Linked DNA regions of Homo sapiens: all the other regions are linked to region 3. Evidence: fine-mapped QTL for protein levels in blood plasma. A gene starts in region 3. Each other region holds a variant in brackets. All regions are shown on one strand. Distances are between the middles of the regions.

Region 1 (8,179 bases), 450 kb before region 3:
GAGGTTATCATCTCGTTGTCTCTGGTTTCCCGTGCTGTCATTGAGAAGTCCAACATCATTCTGATACTCATCTTTTGTTTGTGATCTCCTTTTACTCTCTGGAAGCTTTACAGGATCTTCTTATTATACCCCGGAATCTGAAATTTCACAATCATGTGCCTTGAAATAATTCTGTTGTCATTTATTTACCCAGGTACCCAGTGAATGCTTGAATTCTGTCCAAATTTTCTGTCCTTCCTTTCTGGAATTCCCATTAGTTTGATGTTAAGATTCTGTGCTATATCTAATTTTCTTATGTTTTTTGTTATTATCTTTTTGTTATTATCTTTTTTGTTATTATCTTTCATCATTTTATTCTGTATCTTGAGGATATTTTCTCAATTTTATTTTGCAAATCTCCTATTGAATTCTTTAAAATTAATTCTTTAAAATGTCTTATTATACTATTAATGTTCCAAAGTATTTTCTGCTTTTTAATGTTTTTTTATAATACTCTTTTTTATTATGGATACAGTTGTTATTCATTCAATCAATATTTGGTGTGTTTGTTGTGGGATTTTTTGTTTTTCAGACAGGGTCTCACTCTGTCACCCCAGCTAGAGTACAGTGGCATGATCACAGGTCACTGCAGCCTCGGTCTCCTGGGCTCAAGTTACCCTCCCACCTCAGCCTCCCAAGTAGCTGGGACCATAAGCACAGAATACCATGCCCATCTAATTTTTTATTTTTTGTAGGGACAGGGTCTTACTATGTTGCCCAGGCTGGTCTAGAACTCCTGGGCTCAAACAGTCCTCCTGCATCAGCCTCCCAAAGTGCTGGGAATATGGGTGTGGGTCCCCACGCCAGGCTGATCAACAACGTTTATTGGAACTCCCCTTGTGCCAGTCATGAGTACTGGTGAGAGAAAAACGGACAAGACACAGTCTCTGGCCTCATAGAGTTTACATTCTGCTGAGGGTGGCAAAGAGTAAACAAAAAACTAAGAGATGTACTATATAATGTTAGGAAGTGATAGTGCTAACAAAAGAAATTAACAAGAAATGGAAATAGAAAATAATTGGGGGCAGTTACTCTGTTTTCTCCAAGTTGCTCCAAAGTCTGTTTATTGACTTTGACCTTATCTTTCATCCTAGTGGCTTTCTCCAAGAAAGTTTAGCTGTCCTTTCATATTTAAGACTGAGGCACAGTTCTGTCTGGGCAGGACTTTCTGGTTCTTAGGCATCAGCAAAGAGCAAGTGAGAGGGGCACTGGCCTTTGGTGGTGGGTAAAATGGGCAGCTCTCTTCTGGTTGGTGGTCTCCCCAGAGAGGACTTCTCCACACTTCTGCCTGGCAGCTATGAGCCCACCTGCCAGCATTCTGGGAGCCAAAGGTAAGTGAGCAAGCTAGAAAACCCTCTTTTAGGTTTCCATTAGTCCCCATGTTCAATCTGGCACCTGACAACTGTCCTCAACTGTGCCTGGTATGTACAAATCCAAAAGCTCTTGTGGTTCAACATTTCCCGAGAGACACTTGCCTCCAAAAATCTTTCGCTGTAGTGGGGTAAGGAATCTGGGATACAATCACTCTTTATTCAGACTTTCAAGCATCTTCCTGTTTTTAGCCCCAGCCTACCCCTGCCTCTAGAATAGCTTATGTCTCCAGCTCCTGAGTCTTTGGGGAGTTCTGCAGTGAGACTTAACTAATGTCTTGCTAGCTCATCCCTTCCCTTCTGTAGGGATTTAAGAGTTAGCTTTCTTCATCTCCCAGGTGCTCTGCTGTCCTTTTATGCTCCCTTTGTCCTTATAGATTTGTACCTTTTTTCCTTTTGCCAATATTTTAGTGGAGTCATGGAAGAAATCACATGTAAAATTATATGCTCAATCCCTCATGTTTGACCAGAAAAACTCCACTGTGGCAGCCACTCCTAATTGGTGCTGACAAAATAAAAAATAATAATTCTAAATCACTGTGATTGTTAATCTGAGTTTACTGCTGGGCAAAGCAGGGAAAATATGATCCAACACAGAGAAATTCAGTCCTGTGGGTTGGGGCCAAAAATAACTCAGAGGCAATTAGCCTAAGCCTTGCAGGTTTCATCATTCATAAACAGGCAGGCACCAAGCCTACCTTCTTGGGCTAAAGTTAGGGTTAGGGTTAGGGCTAAGACTAGGGCTAGGGCTAGAGTTAGGGTTAGAGATAAGGCTAATGTTAGGGCTAGGGCTAGGGTCATGGTTAGGATCAGAGTTAATCCTGAGTGTACATAAAGCCCAGGAACCCTGTGTAGACACTCTCGCCAACTAAAGACAAGAGCAAGATTTGTAAATGCAAAAGCCATAAAGTTCCCAAGAAGGTGAGGCTGTCTGATTTAAACAATGTACTATCTTCTTAGTTTCAGACTGACCTGTAATAAATCTCAGCTCAAGTCATTTGTTGAACTTTTATGTCTATTTTTGTTTTTTTCAAACTGTGTGGTCAACATCAGATTCATTAGATTGAATGCAAATAAGGCATCTGTCTGAGTCACAGACATGAAGCAGTCACAAGTTTACCACCAGGCTGTTTCTCTGCTGATTCTGATGAGTCTTCTGAGAAGCAGTTGCTCTAGTTTTCATTTCTATGGTCCTGATCTTGCAATCTCTCACATTCTCCATGCTCAAGGTCTTGCCTAGAGATAAGTCTGCAAGCCCATGTCCAAGACCTATCAAAAATTGTCTTTATTGCTACTAGATATCCATCCCCACTTCTTCCTTACTTACAGAAAAGCAATATTTTTGAGTATCTGGCAGCAATATTCCAAGCTGAAAATTATATGTTCCAGCCTCCCTTACAGGTGTCCCTGAGATCTGGCCAGCGAAGCCCAAGTGAAAGTTGCCTGTGGATTTTCTAGGACTGTTTTATTTTCCTAACATGAAACTTATCTCTTCTTTTGCATATTCTTCTTTTTCTGCTGCCTGGCGCTCCACTCAGCAAATGGTCAGTTAATGAGTACCTGCCATTCTTCCAAGCTATGGCGATATAGCAGTAAGCAAATATCCTTGCCCTTGTTGTGTGTACATTCTAGTGGACCATCTTGCAGTAAGAAGGAAAGCAAATAGAATCACAATCAGCCTCAGCTTTGACATTTCAAAGCACCTGAACCAAAGATGGGAACTTACTTGAGAAAAATAAAATCTCATTTAGTCATATTTTCAGTTACTTGCAACTGGACACAATTACTAAACATACTACTGCCTTTTTTGTTGGTGGGTGGGGGGTCGGGGGGACGGAGTCTTGCTCTTTGTCACTCAGGCTGGAGAGCAGTTGCACGATCTCAGCTCACTGCAACCTCGGCCTCCCAGGTTCAAGCAATCCACCTGCCTCAGCCTCCTGAGTAGCTGGGATTACAGGCACCCACCACCATGCCCAGCTAATTTTTGTATTATTAGTAGAGATGGGGTTTCACCATGTTCGCCGGGCTGGTCTTGAGCTCCTTACCTTAAGCGATCCACCTGCCTCAGCCTCCCAAAGTGCTGGGAATACAGGTGTGAGCCACTGCACGCAGCTGCCTTTCTTTCTTTAACTACAGGTAAGTTCCTTTATAGTTAAGATATCTGGAAGACACCTTGATGGAATAAAATGGTTTCTCAACCTCAACACTCTTGACATTTTGAACCAGATAATTCTTTGTTGTGGAGCTGTCCTAGGCACTGTAAGATGTTTGGCTGCATTCCTGACATCTACCAACCAGATGCCAGTAGCCGCATCCCCCTCCCAAGATATGACAATCAGAATGTCTCTAGACATTGTCAAGTGTTCCCTGAAAGCCAGATTTTCCCTGGTTGAGAACCACTCGCATATGGATGGTGGTGCTGGCAGAGCTAAGGCAAGCAACAAAAGCCAACCCAAACCCAGAGTATTTGGAAACAAAGCATTACTTCCTCCATCGTGGAAAGAATCCAATACAGCTAATCTACCTCTGGGGAGCTGGCTGCCCTTCCCCCCACCCTCCAGTTATCACAGCATTCCAAGAGCTCAGGGCCACTTGGCCACTGCTGCCAACAGTCCCTGCACTCCACCACAGCAGGTCAGACTTGGTGAGAGGAAAAGGGTTGTTGAGTACAGGCACAGCCTCCCTTCCTGCCACCACACTCACTTTGTGAGCACTGAGGTATCTGGGATACCCCAATTTTTGTGAGCATTGGGATATCTGGGAAAGGAGTCTAACATCTCACAGAGTGGGCCATCCATCCTACTTACGTAGTCACAAAGGCCCCCTCTGTATCAAGGCCTTGTGGCAAGCATTCATGTGGGCCACAAATAGCTCCTCACTTCACATTTACCTGAGAGGTCAGTTCACAGACACCTTCACAGGCCTCCTCAGCCATTTCCCAGTCTTGCTTCTTCCAAACCCTTAACCATCAGAGCGTGTCTTTGTCTATTTGGGCTGCTATAAAAACCAAATACCTGAGACTGAGGGGCTCATAACAACAGAAATTTATTTCTTCCAATTCTGGAGATTGGGAAGTTCAAGATCAGGTGCCAGCACGGTCAGGTTCTGGTGAGGGCCTGCCCCTGGATTGCAGACTGCCAGCTTCTTGCTGTGTCCTCACATGGTGGAAGGGACAAGGCAGCTCTCTGGGGTCTCTTTTATTATAAGGGCATTAATCTCACTCATGAGGACTTCACCCTTGTGACCTAACTACCTCTAAAAGGCCCCACCTTCTAATACCACCACCTTGGGGGTTAGGATTTCAGCATGTGGATTTGCAGGAGACACAAATATTCAGACCAGAGTACAGCCCAATTGCAAGTCAGGGGTTATTTCCTTTTTTTTTTTTTTTTTTAAAAAAAAGAAAAAAGTTCTTTGCTGAAAGAGGTGACTTTCCTCCAAAATCCTAGCAAGCCAATTTGTCCCATGCAGCTTACAAAATTTGCTGGGTCTTAAGAGCCTAGCTGCAGAGCCAATCAACTTAAAAGCTTTTACCCCCTGGAGATGCTTTCCCCTGGCCCAGCTCTCATCAAACCTGGTGGCTTTTCAGATCAC[C/T]CAGTAAATAGGTCAAATAGGTGTTAAATGTTATTCATAGTGATTTACTAGGAACTACATCAGGATGAGTAGTGTGGTGTGTGTGAAAGTTAATTTTATTCAGCCTCTTAGGGCTAGCTGATTGGCATAAAGAATATTAGAAATAACTTTCACTAGAGAAATTAAAGTTTAAGACACGGTTTACTTCGAAACCACCAATGTGATGATTGATGCAGGTTAGGATTATCAATGGGTGCTAAATCAGTCTCAGAGTATCACCCCACAGGTCGCTTTTTAATAACAAAGAGAAAAAGATACCTAATGGAAATAAAATCTGGCAGACATCAACTTAATTATGTAAACAAATTAATACCACCAGTAATGGGGAAAAAATGACATTTTGTGTCTCCTACATGAGAAGAACACATTATCTGTGTAGAGTTCTTGCCAAAAATATCTAGCCTAAATCTAATCATAGGGAAAAATTCGAGAAGTTTAAATTATAGAGCATTATGCAAAAACACTGGTCTGGACTCTTCAGAACTTTCAGTATTCCAAAATAAAAGTTTTAAAAATCTAGATTAAAATTAAATTTAAAAACTAATGGACACGATAACTAAATGCAATGAATAATCCCTGATTGGACCTTAGATTCAAAATAAATAGATATATTATTTTATTATTAAAACAATTGGGAAAATTTGAATTTGAGTATAGACTGCATATTAAATTTCTTAAACATGATCATGTAATTGTGGTTATGTAAGAGAATGGCCTTCTTCTTAGCAGCTAGTATTTAAGGTGAAGTGTTTAAGGGTAAAGCATCATAATGTTCCAACTACTTTCAAGTAGTTTGGAAAAAGATACATAAGCATAAACTCACATGTTCATCAACAGATGAATGGATAAAGAAAACGTGGTATATGCATTAAAATGGAGTATTACGCAGCCTTTAAAAAGAAGGAAATCCCTGTCACATTCAACATGCATAAACCTTGAGGACATTATGCTAAGTTATATAAGCTAGTCACAAAAGCACAAATACAGCACTTTTCCACTCACATGAGATATCTAAAGTAGTCAAAATTATAAAAACAGAAAGTAAGAAAGTGGTTGCCAAGGACGGGGAGAGTGGAGAAGGAGAATTAGTTTGTTTCTGGCCATCAAGTTTCAGTTTTGCAAAATGAAAAAGTTCTAGAGATCTGTTGCACAACAATGTGAATATACTTCACACTATTGAACTGGACACAAAAATAGTTAAGATAGTAAATTTAATGTGATACGTTTATAACCACAATTAAAAATAAAATAAAAATTTAAAAATATAGACCCATATATGTTCATGACTTATGTATGTGTGTAGGTAAATATATGTATATATTATTTCTTAGAAAGAAAAGTAGGCAAAGCAAATGTGGGAAAATGTTAATAACTGTGAATCTGGAGAGAAGATATGTGGGTATTTTTATATTATCCTTTCCCTTTTTCTAAAAAAGGAAGTGGGGGCTAATCTGTGATTCACTTAGAATTGTGTAACAAGGCTCATGGCCCTTCCATGAATAACGTATTTTTTTAAATTAAGGCAAGCCCAACAGTTTACATGGGGAGAGGATGCTTGGGCTAAAGTCACTTGGGCCCATTTCTCTACTTTTTGGAGGAGTTTGCCCATCCTGCTGTAAGCGGGTATCTGCTTTAGAACGAGATTTTCATTACAGTGCTGGTCAGCGTGGCTGACCACACAAGCAGAGCCCCCTTCCAAACTCCAGACCAGCTGTTCATGCCTGCGAGCCAAGAAAGGACTGTACAGTTGCTGGCATTTGGTCTGAGACTTGCTCTCATACCAACACTCCGGCAGCAGCAAGCTTGTGTGGGTGGAGATGCATAAGGCCTGCACTCGCACCTGCTTCTAACACCACTCACCGAAAATAATCCGACACTCACGTCATGTCGTTTGGCAACAACAGGGCACCAACTGTGGAATGTGCGCCTCTCCAACCCAAACAGGCATACAGTGATGTAATGCGGGGTGAAGGAAGCAAGTTGCGGAACAGTATTTCGGAATGATACCATATGTGTTAGAAAGCAAAAAGGGAGGAGTGGAGAAAGAAAAGGAGGCAGGGGAGAAAAGAAGGGAGAGGGAGAGGAAAAGAAAGGTAGAAAAGAAAAGCAAAAGGAAGGAAAGAAAAAAAAACAAAAACAAAACCCCTGTCTGTGGATGTCTGTATGTATATATATCATATATATGTTATATGTAATATATAATATATGTAATAGATATGTTATATATGTAACATATATGTTATATATGATATATATACACACACATTTAAAATCTGAAAAAACATATATCAAACTATTAACAGTGGTTATTCTTAGAGTGTTTGAAGGTAAGGATAAGATTTTCACTATTTTACTTCTTTTTCTTGTATATTGTATAAATTTTCTGAATTAGTCCATCTTAATTTGAAATTTTCTTTTAATTTAATTTTTAAATTTTCTTTTAATTAAGAAAAATTAAAGCAAAGGACTATTTAGGGGAGGGATCTTTCTCCTTGAAGGAAAGGGGCTGCTGCTGTCACTTTGAAGTAAATAAAGACAAAGTGCAGTCTAGATCAGAGGCCCATACACTGTGGTTAGTGGACCACACATGGCCTGCCCCTATTTTTATAAACAAATTTGCATTGGAACATAGCAGCCTCCCTCATGCTATCAACAACGAAGTTCTATAGTTGTGACAAGACTAGATAGCCTGCAAAGTCAAAAATGTGTATTATCTGGCCCTTTACAAAAGACATTAGCCAATCCCAGTTCTAGATTTATATTTACCTCTGAGATGGAGTTATCTATAAGAATACCAACTCCATTAGAACACCAACTCATAAATTCAAACTCTCAGAGGAAGGAGTAAAAGGTAAAGGCTAAATTTATTTTGTAAACTCTAAAAGTTGAAATCACAAATGCGCCTCATTATAAAGACCTTTTTTTTTTTTTTTTTTTTTGAGACAGTCTTGCTCTGTCACTCCAGCTGGAATGCGGAGGCATGATCTCGGCTCACTGCAGCCTCCACCTCCCGGGTTCAAGCCATTCTCCTGCCTCAGCCTCCCAAGTGGCTGGGACTACAGGCACCCGCCACCATGCCTGGCTAATTTTTGTATTTTTAGTAGAGATGAGGTTTTACCATGTTTGTCAGGCTTGTC
Region 2 (8,179 bases), 12 kb before region 3:
CACCTCTGAGGTCTGACCTGAGTTTGGAACCTGGCTTTGCTTCTCTTTTTTTTTTTTTTGAGACAGAGCTTTGCTCTTGTTGCCCAGGCTGGAGTGCAGTGGTGTGATCTTGGCTCATTGCAACCTCCACCTCCCGGGTTCAAGCGATTCTCCTGCCTCAGCCTCCTGAGTAGCTGGGATTACAGGTGCCCGCCACCACACCCAGCTAATTTTTGTATTATTAGTAGAGATGGGATTGCACCATGTTGGCCAGGCTGGTCTCAAACACCTGACCTCAAGTGATCTACCCGCCTCAGCCTCCCAAAGTGCTGGGATTATAGGTGTGAGCCACTGCGCTTGGCATGGCTTTGCCTCTTATTTGCTGTGTGATCTTGGGACTGTCACATTGTTTGAGCCTTAGCTTCCTCATCTGTAAAATGAGGACAAGAATACCTACCTGCCCTATGTAAGAAGGTGAATGTAAAGCATCCAGCTGTGCCTGCTGGGTGACTATTCACTGGTTATCTTTCCCTAAGAAAGGGACAAGGAGGCCGGGCACAGTGGCTCATGCCTGTAATCCCAGCACTTTGGGAGGCCAAGGTGGGTGGATCACCTGAGGTCAGGAGTTCAAAACCAGCCTGGCCAACATGGTGAAACCCTGCCTCTAGTAAAAATACAAAAATTAGCCAGGCGTGGTGGCGCGCACATATAATCCCAGCTACTTGGAAGGCTGAGGCAGGAGAATCGCTTGAACCCGGGAGGCAGAGGTTGCAGTGACCTGAGATCGCACTATTGCACTCCAGCCTGGGCGACAGATCAAGACTCCATCTCAAAAAAAAAAAAAAAATGGGGGGAGGACAAGGAGGCAGATTTCAGCTCCAGATAATCCTTCTAATGACTGAAGTTGTGCAATGGCAAGCATAAGCCTCTTATTTTATCCAGCACCTGCCAGGGACCAGGCACTGGGCTAAAGTGCTTTGCACTTGTTACTCATTGAAGCCTGAGAATAATCCTACGAGGTAGATACAATTGCTATGCCCACTTCACAGATGAGAAGAGGTTCAGTGACATGGCCAAGGTCACACAGCTGGTACATGGCAGAACCATTGTCCCAACTCGGGCTTTCTGATCATGCTTTTTGGATGACTGGCACCATGGAAACATGTTCAGCTGAAAGATAAGGAGCTCCTGTGAAGTGTCAGGGATGCCACAGGGCAGACTTCAGCCATGGCATGGGAAGTGGACCAGGTATCCTTCGTGCTCCTTTCTGCCTCTGGTTTTTTGTTGTTGCTGTTGTTGTTGTTTTGAGAGGGAGTCTTGCTCTGTCGCCCAGGCTGCAGTGCAATGGCGCAATCTCGGCTCACTGCAACCTCCACCTCCTGGGTTCAAGTAATTATCCTGCCTCAGCCTCCCGAGTAGATGGGATTACAGGTGCCCACCACCACGCTCAGCTAATTTTTGTATTTTTGGTAGAGACAGGGTTTCACCATGTTGGCCAGGCTGGTCTCGAACTCATGACCTCAGGTAATCCACCCACCTCAGCCTCCAAGAGTGCCGGGATTACAGGCGTGAGCCACTGCAGCCGACCATGCCTCTGGCTTCTTTTGTTTCCTGGGCTCTGCCCTGGGATAGGAAGCTGAATGCCAGGAATCCTCGAATATCTTGAAATCAGGTGCTGGGGGAACCCAGACTGAGTTGATGGTGGACGCTGAGGGAAGCAGGAGGTAGGGGGAATTGGAGCTGGAGCCCCAGAGTTTGACATTACCTGGCTGAAGGACTGGTCTGTCCGGAAGCTACACAGTCTGGACCCAGCCCATCTGGAGGAAAGTGAAAGGAGGGAGGGAAGCTGGGGCTATCCATGGCATGCTTCTTGCGCCCCTCCCCCAGGTGGCCTCTGCAGCATCCCATGGGCTCTGGGCTCTCACTCACCTGTGCTGAGGTTGTGCCCCTCCCCAGTGGGGCTCTCAGGCCACTCCTCTGGGGAGCTGGGAATCACCCCTGCCCCTCCCTCTGGCTCTTTTTCCACGTCCTGCTCCTGCTCTTCGCTGGGACTGCCTGGCTCCTGGAATGAGCATGATCTGCGTGAGCTCATGGTCACACAGCACCTGCCCTGGCTTCATGAGGACTTCAGAAAGTTCTGAAAGGCAGCCTGGGACTACGGTGCTGCACTCCTTGTCCCCCCTCCCCCACCCTGGGCTCTGGAAATCATCAGGAGGAAAACTGGACTTTCCCAACTGACTGAAGCAGAGGGGGCTTGCTTCCAGAAGCAGGAGACGACAGAGCCTCCTTGCTCCTTTCCTGCCTCACTCACTGCCTCCTCTGCATCCTCCGCCTCCTCTTTTGCATCAGCCTCCTCTTTTGCACCATGTTTGGCCTCCTCTTTCCCATCGGGCTCCTTGGGTTCAGCCTTAGCCTCATCCTCCACAACAGCCTTCTGCGATTCAGCCTTGGCCTCTTCATCAGTAGCCTTCTCCTTGGGTTCAGTGCTGCACTCTTTCCTCTGGCCTGTCTCCTCCTGAGAGGCTGTCTTGGCGTCCTCCTCCTCAACTGTTGCCTTAGGTTCAGGCTTGTCTCTGTCATTGGCATCGGCTTTCTGCCCAGATTCAGGTTTGGCCTCTTTCTCCTCAGCCTTCTGCTTCTCAGAGGCCAGCGTGCTCTCCTTTTCCTCAGCCTCTTTGGGTTCAGATTTGGTCTCTTCTTTCCTGCCAGTCATCTCCTGAGAACCCACAGTGGTCTCTTCCTTCTCACCATCCTCCTTTTTAAGTTCAGCCTCAGCATCCTCTTTCCCACCAGCCTCCCTCTGAGATTCCACTTTGACCTCATCTAATCCATTTGCTTCCCCCTGGAGTTCTGCTGACATGCCGTCCTCGGCTGGTGCCTTTTCCTGCTTTCCTGACTCAGTGGGAGGCCCCTCATTGATGGCCTTTCCAGCTGTGCCTTTGGTCTCCTCTGCAGGGGCTCCACCTCCTGACATCTCAGGGTTGTCCGCAGCTGGGGAGACGGTGGTCCCATCCTCAGAGAGCTTCCCTTCCTTCTGCTCCATCTCTGGAAAGAGAAGACAAGCAGACCTGGTCATGCCCCAGCCCAGCATGAGGTGAAGACCCCACCCTCAGAGAGCTCTGGCCTGGGAGTCAGGAAGTCCGTGGTTCAGTCTTGGCTCCTACTTGGACATGGGGCCCAATCACGAAGGAGAGAGAAGTGCTTCCCCAAAGCTGGGATGGTTGGGCTACATTGACATGACGTTGGATGGTGTTCACCTGATGCCCCTCGGTAGGTTCTGGCTTTGGCTTTAAAGAACATTGAATCACATAATGCCTTTTCAGTCATGTTGCCTCTTTTTGATTAAGCCACTGAGGTGGTCACAATTTTATTGTATTATTTATTTTTTGAGACAAGGTCTCGCTCTGTCATCCAGGCTGGAGTGCAGGAGCACAATCTCAGGTCACTGCAACCTCTGCCTCCTGGGGTCAGGTGATCCTCCAACCTCAGCCTCCTGAGTAGCTGGGACTACAGGTGCTTACCACCACACCTGGCTAATTTTTGTGTGTGTGTGTGTGTGTGTGTGTGTGTGTTTTTTTTTTGTAGAGATGGGGTTTTGCCATGTTGCCCAGGCTGGTCTCAAACTCCTGAGCTCAAGCAATCCACCTGCCTCGGCCTCCCAAGGTTCTGGGATTGCAGGCATGAGCAGTGCCTGGTCACAGTTTTATACTGGCATCCTAGAACACCTATGGAACAATTGCTACTCTCCCCTGAGAGCCTAGGCAAGCAGAAGTATCTAGATAGAATTGAATAACACCATTTTGTTTCCATTGTATTTATTTTTACAGTTACTTTCTATCTCTGGTAAGTGATACTGAGTTTCCATTTCCAACAGTGATACAGTGTCTTTTAAAAATACATTTACTGAACTTAAAAATAAGTTGATTCAAAGGAAGTAATTCAGGAAACTGGAATATAGGCAGTGCAGATGTAGCAAAATTATAGAGGTGGTGTATAAAAATGGCTGAAATTTGGGAACCCCAGGGCCAACTGGTCTCTGGAGCTTTGCCAGCTCTACCAGCCTGTGGTTTTTGGAAAAGGTGGGCCTGGGCAAGGAAGCGTTTCCTTGAGTGAAGAATGGAGCCGTACTCTCCCTGGCCTCTGCTGAGCAATCTGACTCTCCAACTGCCCCCGGGAGCATGGGGGTAGATTATGACATCTTAACTCGGAGTTTCCTATTTAAGTACTGTATATACTGGAGGATCTACAAAAACAGGTGTGTGGGGGCCCCGGGTTAGCTCCTTCATGCTCCTGCCCTTTTTGGGGGGTGTAGTTACAAAGAAAACAATCCCCAAATAGGGCTCAGGGCATGACTCAGGCAGTAAGAAAAGTGGACACTCCTGTCACACACTAAAAATACCCCCTGCCCTTGGCAGTACCATCTTTCTCAGTGATAGTACCGAGGGCACCTGGGTAATTGGGCAGAGGACAGGAGGCAAGAAGACAGGGATAGGGCTTTTTTCCCACCACCCACTGGGGTCTTACCCAGAGTCCTGGGGTTCCTGAATTCGATGCCCTCACTATTTCCTAAAAGTAGGCTGGGATTTGTAAAGATGCTCACACTGTCCTCTGATTCCTGCTAGAGCCCCTTCCTGGTTCAGCGGCTCCAGCAATGTCTTAAAGTAAGAGGGAAGATGACGCCGGGCATGGTGGATCACACCTGTAATCCCAGCACTTTGGGAGCCC[G/A]TAGCGGGCAGATCACAAGGTCAGGAGTTCAAGACCAGCCTGGCCAATATGGTGAAACCCCATCTCTACTACAAATACAAAAATTAGCTGGGTGTGGTGGCAGACGCCTGTAATCCCAGCTACTTGGGAGGCTGAGGCAGGAGAATTGCTTGAACCCGGGAGGTGGAGGTTGCAGTGAGCCGAGATCGCGTCACTGCACTCCAGCCTGGGCAACAAAGCGAGACTCCGTCTCAAAAAAAAAAAAAGAGGGAAGATGAGCCAGGGGGATGGACGCACATCAGCAGAGATGCCGGGAGGTGTGAAGTTGTGGAGCTGGCTGTGACCTGCATCTTCCAGTCCCCACTGAGACCTGAGCAAGTAGTTTTCCCTCTCTGGGCCTCAGTTTCAACTGACAATGATGGGGTTCATCTGGATCAGGTTCTCCACATTGTGTTCTGTGGAAAACTAGGGTCTCCCGTGACATGGATAGGGTTTTCTGTGGGGTTGGGAGAAAGGATATTCTCTGGCTAAGGTTGCTCCACAAAAAAGCCTACTCTTTACCCTCTTAGAGATATACAGTTTCAGCCAGGCGCAGTGGCTCATGCCTATAATCTTAGCATTTTGGGAAGCCTAGGTGGGAGGATTACTTCGGCCCAAGAGTTCAAGACCAGCCTAGGCAACATATTAAATTCTGTCTCTATAGTAAGGAAAATAAAATTAAACAAAACAAAACAAAACAAAAACAGATATATAACTTCATTAGCATTTAAATAGATTTTAGAAACCAGATAGTCAAGAAACCTAAACCTTGCTTAAACTTCATTTAACTCACTTTTTTCCAAACCTATTTGACCATGACTTTTTTTTTTCCTCCCTTTGTTTTCTTTTCTTTTTGCTTTGATTTTCCCTGAGGAGCATCTACCACTCTCTCTAGCAGCAGAAGAAAGCATGGCAAATGCTGGTCTAACACAATCCCTTCCCCTCTTTCTCTCTGCTCTTGTTTGGAAGGTGACATGGACTAGCAGTGAAAATCATTGATTCTGGTGTCTTCCTGTGATGGGATCTCAGCTCCCATGGGTTACTAATTGTGTTAACCTTGAGCAAGCTATCCATCCTCTCTGTGTTTTGATTTCTGCAGACAACAATAGGTCCCATCCCATAGGGATGGTGGAGGATTAAGAAAGCCCATGCTTAGAAAATATCTGGAGCCAGACGTGGCGGCACATGCCTGTGGTCCCAGCCACTCAAGAGGCTGAGGCAGGAGGATCACCTGAGGCCAGGAGGTCAAGCAGTGCACTATAATGATGCCTATGAATAGCCACTACACTCCAGCCTGGGCAACAAAGTGAGACCTCAGCTCTTAAAAAAACAAAACAAAACAGGATTCAGAGGCATGCTTGGCATGAATGAGTACTCAGCACCCATCAGCTCGTATGATGTGGGTTGGCTGTGCCCAGCCCTGTGCCAGGGCAAGGTCCTGACCCAGCCTTGAGGGCATTTATCAGTGAGTCAAGGCAGAGAGAACTGAATGCCAGTAGGATGATAACAAGCCCTTTTTATACCTCAAAGTATGACACTATTTGGCTAAGACATAGCTGAGTGCTCCAGTCATCTTTTATTTTTAAGAGACAGGGTCTTACTCTGTTGCCCAGGCTGGAGTGCAGTGGCTCAATCATAGCTCACTGTGACCTCTACCTCCTGGACTCAACGGATCTTCCCACCTCAGCCTCCTGAGGAGCTGTGACCACAGATGTGCACCATCACACCTGGCTAATTTTTTGTTTTTTATTTTTTTTATAGAGATGGGGTCTCGCTATGTTTCCCAGGCTGGTCTCAAACTCTTGGCCTCAAGTGAACCTCCTGCCTCGGCCTCCTAAAGTGCTGAGTTTATAGGTATGAGCCACTGAGACTGGCCGCTCTAACCATCTTTCCTTCTGCCTACACGCTGCATACTTAGGGTGGTGGAGGGGAAGGGTAGGTGCACGCACACGGACACACACCTCGGCTATCCTGCGTGTTTATCACCTCAGCTTTCCACCCTCCAGGCTTGTCACAAATAGAAAAGGAGTGAAGATGCTCAGAATGCTGAGAAACCAGGACGCCACCACCCACCCCCAGCATTCACAGCCCTACAGCAGTTTACAGCTTATGCTGCGGAGGCCCTGCTTTCTCTTGGTCATTTCTTGCTCCGACCCTTCAGAATAGGTTATTGGCCCCATTAGGGAGCCAATGGGGATTTCAGGCTCAGGGAGTTGAAGTCCCTTGACTAAAGTTATAGGACAAGTGGCCTGGCTCTCTATCTAGAATCCAAGTATCCCAACTTCCACTCCAGAGCTCACATCAAATATATGCTCCCACTAGCTCCGCAGCCCAGTGTCCCTACAAAGGCCCTGGCCCAGAGTGGGGGCACCCCACCAGTTGGGAAGGGCAGTCAGATTCAGCCGAGGAGTTCCTCCCTCTTTCTTCTAGGTGCACAGTAGGCCCTTCATGAAAGTTTCTCTGCCCCCACCTTCCTTTCTTATTCTCTCCTTTCCTTCCTCCTTCCTTCCCCAGGAAGTCTCCAAACCATCCCTGTTTTGTGTCCAAAGCAGCACTGCAGATATCTCCCCTCCCTCTCTCTTCCTGTTTCTTCTGGCAGACCAGGAGGAAAGGGACCCAGGAGCCCAAGATCCAAACTCCCAGTAGTATAAACACTGGATGTTCTGTGGTGCGTCTGCCACCCACTGCAGCCTCATCTGTCATCTGGTTGTCCTAAGGCTTCCACCTTCCCCACTCAGCCAGGGGCCCTCCCTTGGAGAGGCCGACCTCAATTGCTTAGACTAGGGGTATCCAATCTTTTGGCTTCCTTGAGCCACACTGGTAGAAGTAGAAGTGTCTTGGGCCACATGTAAAATACGTTAACACTAACGATAGTGGATGAGCTAAAACAAAAATTGCAAAAAAAAAAAAAATCTCATAATGTTTTAAGAAAGTTTATGAATTCATGTTGGGCTACATTCAAAGCCATCCTGGGCCACAGGTAGCCTGTGGGCTGGACAGGCTTGGCTTAGACAGTCTACCCCCCAACCCAGTTTGACTCTTGAGACTCCCAAGGTCCCCTCCCCTGCTCTGTGGCCTCCTCGTGGATGGCCACTTGCAGTCTGCTCTGTAGGTGCTCTGGTGCAGGGCTGAGACCCCAGGCATCTAAAGAGAGTAGACATTGTGGTGGAGAGAATTAGAAAGGAGCCTGGATTTCTCCAAATGGGGGGCCCTCCTGGGAGGCTCTGGCCCTTGGACAGTGGGAGTGAGAATTGGCAGATGGGGAGGGACCCTTAGAAAGGGTGCCAGGGCTTCTCCTACCTGTGGGGCTTCTGCCTGTGGCTTGGGAGCTGTCTCTTTGCTCCAGCTGAGTGGCCTCACTCCCAGGCTGCCTTTAAGCCCCAGTGGCCTCTAGCCCCCAGCTCTTTGGTCCCGCCTCCCCCCTTCCTCTCCCTCTTCCACCCCACCCCCACTTCAA
Region 3 (8,153 bases):
AACTTCTGCCTCCCGCCTCCCGGGTTCAAGCGATTCTCCTGTCTCGCCCTCCTGAGTAGCTGGGACTATAGGCGCATGCCACCACACCCGGCTGATTTTTTTTATTTTAGTAGAGACGGGGTTTCACCATGTTAACCAGGATGGTCTCGATCTCCTGACCTCGTGATCCACCCGCCTCGGCCTCCCAAAGTGTTGGGATTACAGGTGTGAGCCACCGCGCCTGGCTTTTTTTTTTTTTTTGAGACGGAGTCTCACTCTGTCGCCTGGGCTGGAGTGCAGTGGCACGATCTCGGCTCACTGCAACCTCCACCTCCCGGGTTCAAACGATTCTCCTGCCTCAGGCTCCTGAGTAGCTGGGGTTACAGGTGCCCGCCACTACCCCCAGCTAATTTTTTGTATTTTTAGTAGAGACGGAGTTTCACCAACAAGGCTGGTCTCGAACTCCTACCTTGTGATTCGCTCGCCTGGGCCTCCCACAGTGCTGGGATTACAGGCGTGAGCCACCGCACCCTGCCAGTTCTATGACATCTTATCACCTGTGTAGATTCTTGTAACCACCACCACAATCAGGATACAGAATTATCCATCAACACAAAGATCTCTCTTGTGCTACCCTTTACAGGTACACTTCTATCTCCCCATCAACCCTAACACTAGACAATCAGAAATCTCTTCTCCATCTCTATAATTTTGTGATTTTGAGAATGTTACTTAAATGAAATCATACAGTATGCAACCTTTCATAAGGCCCAGTAGATATTGCAAGATTCCTCTTGTAAGAAACCATCTCCTTTTCCCACGCAGTTTCTTAACTTTCCATAATGTTTCTTTTTTGCGGGGAGTGGGGGGTCGGAGTTTCACTCTTGTTGCCCAGGCTGGAGTGCAATGGTGCGATCTTGGCTCACTGCAACCTCTGCCTCCCGGGTTCAAGTGTTTCTCCTGCCTTAGCCTCCTGCTTAGCCTCTTGAGTAGCTGGGATTACAAGCACCCGTCACCACACCGGGCTACTTTTTTGTATTTTTAGTAGAGATGGGGTTTCACCAAGTTGGCCAGGCTGGTCTCGAACTCCTGACCTCAGGTGATCCACCCACCTCAGCCTCCCAAAGTGCTGGGATTACAGGCGTGAGCCACTGCACCCGGCCAATGTTGACTATATTTTCAAAGGCAAAAACCAAGGCAAGATATGTCCATCTGTACAAGAGTATCATAGCAGCATTATTGCATAATAGGCAAAAACTGGAAACAATCCAAACATCCACCAACGGGAGAATGGATAGATGAATTGTGGCATACTCATACAATCAAACACTAGACAGCAATAAAACAGAAGGAATAACAGATGCACACAACAATATGGAGGAAATCTTACAGGTACATTGAGCTAAAGAAGTCAGGCACAAAATAGAAAATAATGTATAATTCCATTTACACGAAGTTCAAGAACAAGGAAAACTAATTGATGGTGATAGAGGTCAGAATAGTGGTTAACTTCGAGAGGGGGTATTGATGGGGAAGGAACACAAGATAACTTTTTGGGGTGCAGGAAGTATTTTATATCTTGATCTGGATGGCGGTTATACAAATGTACATATATAGATACATATATATTTAATTAAGCTTAACATTCGTGTATTTTATGCACTTTATGAATGTTATACCCCAATCTTTAAAAATCAGGGCACAAGTTTGGCAAAGATGAGTCTTCAAAGCAGTAGAAAGGTCAATTGTTTAAAATTAGGATGGTCTTGGACAATTAGGGAAGCTTATGATGACCACACAGAAAATGTCTAGCCCACCTTTTCCAATGGGCAATGTGCCCTTGCGTCATTAATTTACATCTTGTAAATTTATTTTACCAGGAAATTGTGTGACAAATCAAGGGACTGAGTATTGTTTCCTTGTTTCCTTCTTTTTAGTGGGGAATGAGTGAATGGTGCAGTTTGAAGAACACATTAAGTCTTGAAAGTTGGAAAGTTCACCAGTACCCTTCTTTCCCTCACCCAAGATTAGCCCTGGTGGCAGCCGAAATTGCTTTTATTATCTCTTTGTGGCTGAGGACCTCTAACTGTTGAAGAAAACATATTTTACACGTCTTGTCTTTCTGCGAACAGGAAGCCTATCTCGCTTATCTTTGCAACCCCAGACGGGGCTTAGTGTGACCTACACACAGCAGTAATCGCACAACGTCCCGTGGAGCACTGCTTCTCAAATTTGGCTGTACATACGAATCACCTGGGGAATTTTAAATTGTATTGCTGCCTGAGGAATTTTAAACTGTACTCCCAGAGATTCTGATTTAATTGAAATGAGGTGAGTCCTGGGCACTGGGATGTTTAAAAACGTTCCAGGTGATTTTAACGCGAAACAAAAACAGAACCGCTGTTTGGGGGCGTTCTTCCTTCTCCACGCCTGATTTGCGCACAGGAGTCGGCTGTCTGGAACGGGGGTGAGGTTCACAGGTGTCTGTCGCCACGCCTCTTCCTACAGAACCAATAAACTGAAGCCGCTCGGTGACATCCCAAAGGACTTGAATTCTGATCGGGCTGCAGACGCTCTGCACCCCGCCCAAGCTTCTATGGTACTTTGGTGTCCTCTCTAGCACTGGCAAGTCGCCTTCCTCTTCGCCCGGCGCCAGCCGCTCCCTCTCTATGATCGCCGAGTTCCCGGCGCCGTCTCGTTGGTATTTAATTCCGGAAGCGAGTTTGAATCAAAGAAGAGGCGGGACTTTCCTCCCGGAAGTAACCCACGTGCTTCCGCTGGAGCCTCTCGGGAGGCGGGTAACGTTATAGTATTTGTCAGAAGTTGGGGTCTCCGTGGGCATTGTGATCCGTCCCAGGCAGTGGTAAGTGACACATGACCTCTGAATTCAATGTGGCCCTGATGATGGCGTCGCCATTTCAGAGGTGTAGCCTTTGGGCTGGGTCCCGGTCGCCTCTGTTCAGCGTATGATCCCATTCCCAGGGCCCTGGAGGTTCAGGTTCGTGGGTTAGAGAGTTCTCCTCCGGTCCTCGATCTCCTGAATAGAGGTGACCTCCAGGAACTGGGGCATCAGAGATCCGGGGCTCGATTTCCAGGCTCGCCATAGACGTCCTGTGCGACCTTGGGCTAGGCCTCAGTTTCCACATCCGTGAAATGGGGTGGTTAAGCTCACTGAGGTTAGTGGCCCGTGGTGGTCTGGCGCCCTGTGAGTCCTCTGTATCCTCTAGCCCCAGGGGTAGGAGAGTGAACGGCGGCGGTGGGTGCTGATGGTGATGTCTGCTCCCAGGATTAGGAGGCCAGAAGGAGATCCCTTCCACGGTGCTAGGCTGAGATGGATCCTCTCAGGGCCCAACAGCTGGCTGCGGAGCTGGAGGTGGAGATGATGGCCGATATGTACAACAGGTAAAGAGAACTATGTGCTACCCTGTCTTGGAAAATAAGTCTTGGTCACCCTTATCGAAGGTGAATGACTTATGACAAATTCCTTCCTGAATGTAGGGGAGCCTGAGGCCCATGCTTACCCTCCCCACACCCACCTTCAAGGTTGATCCTAATGTAGATGCAGTAAAGGGTCACTAGAATGAGTTGGGCATTTAGATGGGGATGGAACTGGCAATGCAGGAGCCAAGCAGGAAGAGAAACTCCAATCCAGGCTCTGGTTAGGTTCCAAGAAAAGCTGAGTATTTGCCTCTTGACAAATAGCACATAGCCAGCCCATTTAGTAGTTAACATTTTAAAACCCTTTATTCTGTGTCAGGCACTTGTTAATCTTCAAAATAATCCAGTGGGTTAATTTTATTAGTCCCGTCTTAAAATGAGGAAATTGATGATTCTAGAGGTTAAGTAACTTCCTTAGGGTCGGCAGCTGGTCAGTAACAATGCCAGAACTAGCACCTCAGTCTGATTCTGCAACTAGTGCTCATAACCATTTGGCAAATTTGGGAACAAATCCTGGCTCCACCAATCACCAGCAGTATAATTGGACATGTTACTTGCACTGTTTGACAATTGGTTTCCTCATTATGAAGAAGACATAATGATACCTACCTCATAGGACATCATAAATATTAAATCTAAAAATATATGAAAGCCCTTAGCCTCAAGCCCAACACTTAGTGAAATGTCTGCTATTTTTATTGGCTTAAGCTCTCTTGATTGGTTGGTTTATCCTGAAGGCTATAAATTAGAAGGATTTTTAAGTGTAGACTGTGAGGTCAGATGACCTGGCTTCATAACCCAGCTCTGTGTGATCCTTAGAAAATTACTGAGCCTCTGTTTGCCTTAATTTCCTCATCTGTAAAATGGGGATACATGTCTCTTAGGGTTATTGTAAGCATTGCATAACAGAATGCAGGTAAAGCACTTAGCAGGATGCCTGGCATGTAGCCAGTCCTCAACAAATGGTTTCTACTTAGTTAGTCATATACATGGACTTAGACAAGTTTCCTACTTGCAAGGACCTTCCAGTGGTTGAGGTGTAAACTGAGGATTTACACTGCTTTCTTGGGGGAGGTGAAATCAATATAGCAGGGCTGGAATGGTCAAGGTTCCTGGGATGTCACAGGATGCTGCTGACATGACCTTGCCCCTCCCTCCCTCCAGAATGACCAGTGCCTGCCACCGGAAGTGTGTGCCTCCTCACTACAAGGAAGCAGAGCTCTCCAAGGGCGAGTCTGTGTGCCTGGACCGATGTGTCTCTAAGTACCTGGACATCCATGAGCGGATGGGCAAAAAGTTGACAGAGTTGTCTATGCAGGATGAAGAGCTGATGAAGAGGGTGCAGCAGAGCTCTGGGCCTGCATGAGGTCCCTGTCAGTATACACCCTGGGGTGTACCCCACCCCTTCCCACTTTAATAAACGTGCTCCCTGTTGGGTGTCATCTGTGAAGACTGCCAGGCCTAGGCTCTCTGTAGAGAGTCTTCAAGATCCCGGAGTGGTAGCGCTGTCTCCTGGTGAAGGAGTATTTGTCACACTGGAATGTGACTGTGTGTGTATGTATGTGTATATATATATATATATATATATATATATATATAAACAAGTTTGTTGACACCTACTATGTGCAAAGCAGTGTGCTTGGCATTTGAGAGTAAAGAAAACAGACACAGCCCCTACCAGCAGAGGGAGATTAATGAGTGTTTAAGAGTAAGACAGGCCGGGCAAGGTGGCTCATGCCTGTAATCTCAGCACTTTGGGAGGCTGAGGTGGGTGGATCACTTGAGGTCAGGAGTTCAAGACCAGCCTGGCCAACATGGCAAAACCCCGTCTCTACTAAAAATACAAAAATTAGCTGGGTGTAGTGGCGGGTGCCTGTAATCCCAGCTACTCAGGAGGCTGAGGCAGGAGAATCGCTTGAACCCAGGAGGCGGAGGTTGCATGAGCTGAGATTGTGCCACTGTCCTCCAGCCTGGGCAACAGAGTGAGACTCCATCTCAAAAAAAAGTAAGACAGCTTAGGTTTGCCTGCTGTCTGCTGCTTTTTGTGTGGCCCTGCACCTGTCACTTTTGTGTGCTTTAGCTTCCGCATCTGTAAAATAGGGTTAGCCCCCTGACTAATCCTGTTTTACAGATGAGCAAGCTGAGGATTTAAGAAGTAAGTTGCTTGCTGGAGCAAGCTTGCTGGAGGTCACACAAGCAGAACAATACCATGGAGGCCAGACCTGACTGCTGCGTTTGCTGTCTCCAGATGGGACTGTGGTTGACACCAGTGCCACTGTGACAGCAGTACCTTCAAAGTGGGCCTTCCTGGTAGAAGTGTCTGGGATGTAACTAGGTCATTGGAGTAAAGGAGACAGAATAGAGGCAGTGAGTTTGGGGCTTGTGAGTGCAGGTTCAAGCCAGACTGCTTAACTTTGAGTTTCTACTGAAATTTTCTAGCAGTGTGATCTTGAGTAAGGCTTTTTAACTGCTCTGTGCCTCAATTACCCCATCATAAAATGGCAGTAAGGTTACCCACCTCATTAGGTAGTTGCAAAAATTAAACGTGTTAATAACCAAAGCACTTAGGAGAGTGCCTAGCATACATTGAGTATCCAATAACATTAGCTTTTTTCATTGCTAAGTTTGGTGGGAGGTGAAGATACCGGATGTACTGGAAAACTTCAAAGCCATTACTAGTCTTTAGGGTAGAAAGAAAGAAAGTTCCTTTCCAGGTACTGAAGTGCAGATTTTGGTCAACAGGTGGCGCCGTCTGCTCATGGTCAGCACTGCTGTGGACAATTCCGCACATTTTATCATTTGCCTATTCTTTGCTGGCCTTGTTCTTGAAAGAGAGGACAGGTGAGGAAAATCGATATTGTGCATACCCTCAGGTTTAGCAAGAAACATCAAGAATTCTCTGTTAGCACATAGCCAGAACATCTAGAAGGGGTGGTAGGAGTGGGGATTAGAGGTTCCAGCTGGAGGCAATGGCACTTGCAAAGGCTTTGTTGAAGTGGCGTAAGTGTGGAGGTGGAGCATTCAGGAAAGGAGAGCTTCAGCTTCAGTGTGGCTGGAGTGCTGGGTGTGAAGAGAGGTGAAGATGAGGCTTGGAGGCTGGGCAGATTTTGCTCCAAAAGAGCTTGGTGAACTGTGATAAGGAGTTTGGATTTTCTCCTACTAAGGACAACAGCAAACTATTGAAGAGTTTAAATCGTTCAGTGACAATGACACGTTTGCGTTTTGGTGGCTCACTCGAGCTGCCAGCCAGGTAGACAGTGGCAGAAGATGGAAGATAAAGCACTAAAGGGTGATGAGGCAGGAAGCCAGTGAGGAGAGAAAGGGGACGATGTGAGTGACAGTAAATCATTTGTTGGGTTGCTATTGTGTGCTAAGCTCTGTGCTAAATTCTTCACGTGTATTATTTCAGCTAATCCATCTAACAACTCTGTAAGGCAGGTACAATCGTTCCCAGCTGAAGAAGCTGAGGCTCTCAAAAGCTAGTAACTTGCCTAAGTTCATGCAGCATGCAAGTTGTCCAGCCAGGATTCTAACTTAGACACCAGAGGCCACTTTTAACCACTGCTCTAGGACTGGGGGAAATGGTCCCTAGTGAGATATGTGTCGAGTTTCATATTTCATTCAACAATATTGTTGGCCTGCTACATGTGAAGAGCTGTGGAAAGCGCCCAAAGTGAGTTAGATCCCTATGAGCAAGTGGGATGGGGGTGGAGTGGACAGTAGGAGGGCTGGAACACACATAAAAGGGTATAAGAAATAACAATTAGGCCGGCCAGGGGTGGTGGCTCACGCTTTTAATCCCAGCACTTTGGGAGGCCGAGGAGGGTGGATCACTTGAGGCCAGGAGTTTGAGACCAGCCCGGCCAACATGGTAAAACCCCATCTCTACTAAAAATGCAAAAATTAGCTGGGCTGGTGGTGCACGCCTGTAATCCCAGCTACTTGGGAGGCTGAGGCACGAGAATCACTTGAACCCAGGAGGCAGAGGTTACAGTGAACTGAGATTGCACCACTCTACTCCAGCCTGGGAGACAGAGTGTGACCCTGTCTCAAAAAAAGAAAACAAAACAAGTAGGTACTTTCTGCCATAGGGAGGATTCATAAACTGCTAGTCCTCAGGTGCATTTTTGCTTATCAGTTTTAAAAATCAGAGAATGTCTCAAAGAATTAGGATGTCAGCTTCTTTTGAAAATTTGGGCCAGAAGCGGTGGCTCACGCCTGTAATCCCAGCACTTTGGGAGGCTGAGGTGGGTAGATCACCCGAGGTCAGGAGTTGGAGACCAGCCTGACCAACATGGCGAAACCCCGTATCTACTAAAAATACAAAAATTAGCTGGGCTGGTGGTGCATGCCTTTAGTTCCAGCTACTCAGGATGCTGAGGCATGAGAATCACTTGAACCCGGGAGGCAGGGGTTACAGTGAAATGAGATTGCACCACTGCACTCTAGCCTGGGAGACAGAGCAAGACCCTGCCTCGAAAAAAAGAAAAAGAAAATTTGGAAGATCTGACAACAGTTGACCTGCATTCCTGCTCGGCAACAGCCTGATGGTGGATGGGCAGAGGCTCAGTTGTCTGCCAAACCTCCCATCACTGATGTCTTCCCTCGCTGTCATCATCTGCTTGACATGTAGGCATTTGGTGTGTGCCTTCTGCTCTGGGTGCCCAGATGAATTGGATGCTATATGAGAAAACATTCTGTAAATGTCTTGTGGTAGGCAACCTCAAAGATCACTG

Direction of the effects. Alleles are on the strand shown, and positions count from the first base shown. The strength of an association depends on the size of the effect and on how common the allele is. Not every link is listed here.
With allele T in place of C in region 1, the plasma level of the protein whose gene starts at base 2,746 in region 3 is higher (moderate association).

The links. A credible set is the group of variants that fine-mapping cannot tell apart. PIP is the posterior inclusion probability: the model's chance that the variant is causal. The UK Biobank Pharma Proteomics Project read protein levels with antibody pairs (Olink). The fine-mapping took linkage between variants from a reference panel, not from the people measured, so its PIPs are less certain.
Region 1: its variant is the best candidate, but not a certain one, in a credible set for the plasma level of the TIMM10 protein (UK Biobank, PIP 0.73).
Region 2: its variant is the best candidate, but not a certain one, in a credible set for the plasma level of the TIMM10 protein (UK Biobank, PIP 0.51).

Annotation. Positions count from the first base shown.
Region 1 is chr11:57,973,726-57,981,904 of GRCh38, reverse strand. No RefSeq gene overlaps it. Among named protein-coding and RNA genes, the nearest start is that of OR9Q1, 46 kb to the left of the region's middle. RefSeq lists a silencer at 2,834-3,128. The variant C/T (reference allele first, on the strand shown) is at 5,004.
Region 2 is chr11:57,537,486-57,545,664 of GRCh38, reverse strand. SMTNL1 (smoothelin like 1) reads right to left here and starts at 8,070. Exons shown (of 8, transcript NM_001105565.3): 1 at 8,023-8,070; 2 at 2,291-3,024; 3 at 1,909-2,041; 4 at 1,745-1,796. The coding sequence starts at 3,022. RefSeq lists an enhancer at 1,372-2,262. The variant G/A (reference allele first, on the strand shown) is at 4,705.
Region 3 is chr11:57,525,347-57,533,499 of GRCh38, reverse strand. TIMM10 (translocase of inner mitochondrial membrane 10) reads left to right here and starts at 2,746. Exons shown (of 3, transcript NM_012456.3): 1 at 2,746-2,842; 2 at 3,266-3,381; 3 at 4,582-5,036. The coding sequence starts at 3,311. The coding sequence ends at 4,783. It also overlaps the pseudogene RN7SL605P. RefSeq lists enhancers at 2,567-2,746, 7,201-7,798.